Regions from separate parts of the Homo sapiens genome. Here region 2 is linked to region 1. Evidence: fine-mapped expression QTL. Tissue or cell type: whole blood. Region 1 holds a variant in brackets; the other region holds the start of a gene. All regions are shown on one strand. Distances are between the middles of the regions. Region 1 overlaps ATP1B1 (ATPase Na+/K+ transporting subunit beta 1). Region 2 holds the start of ATP1B1 (ATPase Na+/K+ transporting subunit beta 1).

Region 1 (2,885 bases):
AATATCGCCTGGTGCAGTGGCTCACGCCTGTAATCCTAGCACTTTGGGAGGCCGAGATGGGCAGATAATGAGGTCAAGAGTTTGAGACCAGCCTGGCCAACATGGTGAAACCCTGTCTCTACTACACATACAAAAATTAGCTGGGCGTGGCGGCGCGTGCCTGTAATCCCAGCTGAGGACCTGAGGCAGGAGAATCGCTTGGACCTGGGAGGCGGAGGTTGCAGTGAGCTGAGATCACGCCATTGCACTCCAGCCTGGGGACAGAGCAAGACTATCTCAAAAAAAAAAAAAAAAAAAAAAAAAAAATTGAAAGACTAAGGTAACAATTAGTGCATGTTTCCTTTGGATCCAAAAACTAATGGACCGTTTAGAGAGAAAGGCAGAACAAAGAAAGGGAGTTCCCAGACAGTGCTAGCACCAAGCAAGGAAGTGGAGATTGATTTCTCAACAAGAAAATGAGAGGCAAGTAGTAAACTTTGGAGATAATATCACTAGACAGATTATTTACTGGGCCAACAGCAAGGTGTTTCTGCCTTTCAATGTTGGCCTTGTTTCTAGGAGGCTTGAAGAATGCTTATTTGGCATTTGACTCAGCTTCCCCATCCATTTGCACATTGAGAATAGTCTCTTCTTATGACCATTTCTCAAGGCTGCAATGGAATAGACTGAGTAGATGTTCTTTCCTCTCTCAGTAGTTTGCAAACTACTGTGTAGATTGAGTCTTGTTTTTGAGTACACATAGTGATGCATGATGTGAGCCATTAAAATTTCATTTCATTCTGGATTTCAGCGAGATGAAGATAAGGATAAAGTTGGAAATGTGGAGTATTTTGGACTGGGCAACTCCCCTGGTTTTCCTCTGCAGTATTATCCGTACTATGGCAAACTCCTGCAGCCCAAATACCTGCAGCCCCTGCTGGCCGTACAGTTCACCAATCTTACCATGGACACTGAAATTCGCATAGAGTGTAAGGCGTACGGTGAGAACATTGGGTACAGTGAGAAAGACCGTTTTCAGGGACGTTTTGATGTAAAAATTGAAGTTAAGAGCTGATCACAAGCACAAATCTTTCCCACTAGCCATTTAATAAGTTAAAAAAAGATACAAAAACAAAAACCTACTAGTCTTGAACAAACTGTCATACGTATGGGACCTACACTTAATCTATATGCTTTACACTAGCTTTCTGCATTTAATAGGTTAGAATGTAAATTAAAGTGTAGCAATAGCAACAAAATATTTATTCTACTGTAAATGACAAAAGAAAAAGAAAAATTGAGCCTTGGGACGTGCCCATTTTTACTGTAAATTATGATTCCGTAACTGACTTGTAGTAAGCAGTGTTTCTGGCCCCTAAGTATTGCTGCCTTGTGTATTTTATTTAGTGTACAGTACTACAGGTGCATACTCTGGTCATTTTTCAAGCCATGTTTTATTGTATCTGTTTTCTACTTTATGTGAGCAAGGTTTGCTGTCCAAGGTGTAAATATTCAACGGGAATAAAACTGGCATGGTAATTTTTTTTTTT[T/TG]TTTTTTTTTTGTTTTTTGGCTCTTTCAAAGGTAATGGCCCATCGATGAGCATTTTTAACATACTCCATAGTCTTTTCCTGTGGTGTTAGGTCTTTATTTTTATTTTTTTCCTGGGGGCTGGGGTGGGGGTTTGTCATGGGGGAACTGCCCTTTAAATTTTAAGTGACACTACAGAAAAACACAAAAAGGTGATGGGTTGTGTTATGCTTGTATTGAATGCTGTCTTGACATCTCTTGCCTTGTCCTCCGGTATGTTCTAAAGCTGTGTCTGAGATCTGGATCTGCCCATCACTTTGGCTAGTGACAGGGCTAATTAATTTGCTTTATACATTTTCTTTTACTTTCCTTTTTTCCTTTCTGGAGGCATCACATGCTGGTGCTGTGTCTTTATGAATGTTTTAACCATTTTCATGGTGGAAGAATTTTATATTTATGCAGTTGTACAATTTTATTTTTTTCTGCAAGAAAAAGTGTAATGTATGAAATAAACCAAAGTCACTTGTTTGAAAATAAATCTTTATTTTGAACTTTATAAAAAGCAATGCAGTACCCCATAGACTGGTGTTAAATGTTGTCTACAGTGCAAAATCCATGTTCTAACATATGTAATAATTGCCAGGAGTACAGTGCTCTTGTTGATCTTGTATTCAGTCAGGTTAAAACAACGGACAATAAAAGAATGAACACATTCCTCGTGTGTGATTCACTCTTGTCTAAATGTCCCAACCTGTGACTTCTTTACTTTCCACACCACTAATTATCCAAGATCTTGAAGAAGTATTGAACCTGAAACGGAGAAACACATAATTTCTTAGTTCAGACAAATTTTGGTCTTTTCCACTTAACAGAGTCCAAGAGGTTGGTCAGGACTTCAGACACTGGCATACCCCTTCCCAAAGACACTAAAAGTTAATCAATCAATCAGAGGCAGAGAATCGATGAAGCTCCAGTTTGAAGTTCCATTTAAAAAAATCATCTTGCAGTGCTACTGCTACTTCACTCAGTTTAGAAAACATGAAGTGTTGGTTCCTGCTATTGCTTCACTAGACATATGTGTTAAAAAAAAAAGTTGTTAGCACTTCAGTTTTTAAAAAATGAGGTTAGGTTTGTGGTTCAGTAAATTAAGGTTCATACCTTGCTTTTTGGTTCAGGGATTGGCCTAAGTCCTTATTTAGCTGTATTTAAAAATTAGCCTTAGTGTGAAAGAAGATAAAAAAGCTTTCCAAAAAACATTTTCCAGCTATAATTATTAAAGATTTAGTATCACTTAACTAACATGGGAAATGCCCACACTAAAATCAGGGCATTGTATTTCTGAAACGGAAACCTTTCGCAAAGCCTGTGCAGGCAGAGGA
Region 2 (2,870 bases), 25 kb before region 1:
GACCTTGGGGACAGAAGGGTGGCCAGGATAAGGACAAGCATCCTGGTATTGGGGAATTCTCTGATATGGGGCTGGGACGTCAAGATGGGCCATGATGGCCCCTGGGGATAGGGCTTCTCTGCAGTGGAAGCAGAAGCATCCCGGTGTTTTCTGCTGTGTCACTGTCCTCAGAGGGATGTATAAAGCTGCTTGGGGGCTCATAGGAGAGGGATGAAACCAAGAGTTTGGCTTTCCAGCAACAGCGGACAAAGAGTGGGAAGGGGTACTCTATGCCCCAGGTCTGCAACATCTTGCCCTATGCGCTAGGTTTTCCCAAAGGTCCTTTGGCTCCAAGAATTTTACAGCAGAACAAAGGGATCGATACCCCCAAGGGGGCATAAAAGCATGCCAATGAGAATACCCGCCGCCGACCGGGCACCAAGAAAGTCCTCGGTGGCTGGGTCACGTGCAGATATTGTTGCCTGGGGTCTAGACTGGCCTGAGTCTCAATTGGTTTCTACGGGACAACTCACTGCGGGCTACCGCCCTGGGTGGGTTTGGCAATTGTCCTGCTCGAGGTGGTTCAGGCCGCCCACAAGGGGCACAGCCGGGCAGTCAGGAACCGGGGCTGCCGGCTGGGCTGGCCTGCAAAGAAGAGGGAAGGGCCGGAACTGCAACCGCAGTGGCGGGGAGTGCGAGGGGGCGGCAGGTGCAGGAGCGGGAGGCGGGGCGGAGCTGGGCAGAGTCCTCGCCAGTCCGGCGTCCCGGAGTGACCTTCCCCCACCCCGCCAGCGCCCAGGAGGGGTGGACCCACAGCCCAGGGAGGCCGAAAGCGCGGGCGGGCAGGCAGAGGCGTGGAGGCTGGGCCAGGACTGCCGGGCTGGGGTCCTCGAGGCTCCGGGCGACCCAGGTGCGGATCCCCCAGCCACGGAAGGGGCGGTTCACGCCCAGCCGGGAGCTGGGAGGGGGCTGCGCGGCGCTGCCTGCGCGTCCCTCACCGCCGCCCCCGCCTCCTCCTCGCCCCGCGCCCAACGCCCCGCGCCCAGCGATCCAAGCGGCCCCTCTAGCCCCGGCGGCTCCTTTGTGCCGGCCCCGAACCCGCCCTCTCGGGCCGAGTCCCTGCCCCTGGCGCCGGCGATTGGCCACCGGGCCGCTAGAGGGCGGGGCGCACGGCCGCCGGGGCGCGGTATATAGTAAAGGTAGGGCGGGCGCAGCCAATTCCTCGGCTCCTGGCGGGAGTGCCGGTGGCGCCCCGCAGTCCGCTTGTCCGTCCTTCCCTCTCTGACTCTCCTACCCCGGGCCTGTCTCTGCAGAGGTCAGGGGAGGCGGGGGCCCAGCACACGTCCCCAGTGGCAGCGGGAGCGGCAGCTACGGGTTCGCGGAGCCCCCGACCCCCCAAGGGCTAGAGGAGCGCTCGGCGGACCAAAGAAAGCCCGCGAGCGGCTGCGCGCCCACCAATAGGTGCGGGGCTCGGAGCCGCGCAGCCTGCGCCGTCCCTCCCTCCGCCCCCGCCCCGCCGCCGCCGCCGCCGCCGCCTCCCCCTCCTCCTGCTCCTGCCTTGGCTCCTCCGCCGCGCGTCTCGCACTCCGAGAGCCGCAGCGGCAGCGGCGCGTCCTGCCTGCAGAGAGCCAGGCCGGAGAAGCCGAGCGGCGCAGAGGACGCCAGGGCGCGCGCCGCAGCCACCCACCCTCCGGACCGCGGCAGCTGCTGACCCGCCATCGCCATGGCCCGCGGGAAAGCCAAGGAGGAGGGCAGCTGGAAGAAATTCATCTGGAACTCAGAGAAGAAGGAGTTTCTGGGCAGGACCGGTGGCAGTTGGTGTAAGTACGGGGTCCGCAGCTCCCGGCCGCCGCGTCTGATCTTTCCCGGGCGGCGCATCCCCTGCGCAGGGTCCGCGGCCGGTTCCGCACCCACCGCGCTGGCCGGGGTGGCGGGGGCGAGGGTGGTGGACGCTGCTGGGTCGCGCCGGCCTGGGCTTGCAGTCCTGTGCGGAATGCGGTGTCCCCAGAGTGGGGCGCAGGGTCGGGGCTGGAACACGACAGGCGGAAGGTTATGCATATCGTAGCGATCTTGGCTTGGTAATTTGCAGTCTTTCCTACCGTGCATCGGTTGAGCCTTTTACTCCTGGGAATAGTCAGGCTCTGCGAGACTACATTTGTCTCTCCCGTGTCCTGAGTCCTTAAAAAAAAAATGAGATCTGGGGTCTTGAGAGAACCTCGTGAGGTGATGGGATCTAATGCAGACGAGGTTGTGTGTTACAGCATCTTTCTTCTAGTCTAAATACGTATCTCAAAAGAGAGGAAAGAGAAGGGTGGAGAGGAATCCATCCACACTGTAGTATTTCACAGCGATGGCTAAGGATTTCCCTCCATGACCTCCCCTGGAGTCATCACCACCCAGAAATGGTTCAATAAGCTCCATTTCAGGACTCCGATTCTTAGCTTTGGCCCGAAACCTGGCAAAGTCTGGTTGTTTTCAAGGTCTACACAGACAGTTGTGGATCAGTCAGTAGGTTGGGTTGATTATGGTGAAGGGAATATAAACGCAGAGCAGCTGATCTTAAAATATTTTGTGCAGCCTGTTGCTTGGTTGGATAGACTTTTTTCCATCGAAAATTAGATTTCTTGTTTTCAGCCTCTCCGGAAAGGTGACTTTTTTTTTTTTAAAAAAAAGGTCATTTTGAAGGGCAGAGTTGTAGGCGAATCTATGAGTCGTGACTGCGTGAGGGAAGGAGGGAGGGAACTCCCCCTGCTGCATCACTGCCCCCTCCTCCTCCAACATCATCATCATCATCATCATCATCATGACCATCACCACCAACACCACTGGCACCACCACTGCAGTCATTCAGGGAGTCCTGAACAGAGGCCGATTGGTGTTCCTGCTTGGGA

Evidence for each region.
Region 2: it holds the start of ATP1B1, and the variant in region 1 is fine-mapped to the expression of ATP1B1 in whole blood (INTERVAL, PIP 0.92).

What each region holds. Positions count from the first base shown.
Region 1 is chr1:169,130,502-169,133,386 of GRCh38, forward strand. It overlaps ATP1B1 (ATPase Na+/K+ transporting subunit beta 1), which reads left to right. Exons shown (of 6, transcript NM_001677.4): 6 at 791-2,218. The coding sequence ends at 1,054. It overlaps NME7 (NME/NM23 family member 7), which reads right to left. Exons shown (of 12, transcript NM_013330.5): 12 at 2,030-2,316. The coding sequence ends at 2,284. Among named protein-coding and RNA genes, the nearest start is that of ATP1B1, 25 kb to the left of the region's middle. The variant T/TG (reference allele first, on the strand shown) is at 1,530.
Region 2 is chr1:169,105,128-169,107,997 of GRCh38, forward strand. ATP1B1 (ATPase Na+/K+ transporting subunit beta 1) reads left to right here and starts at 1,563. Exons shown (of 6, transcript NM_001677.4): 1 at 1,563-1,799. The coding sequence starts at 1,703. RefSeq lists enhancers at 1-553, 1,044-1,338, 1,127-1,699, 1,700-2,272 and a silencer at 611-1,530.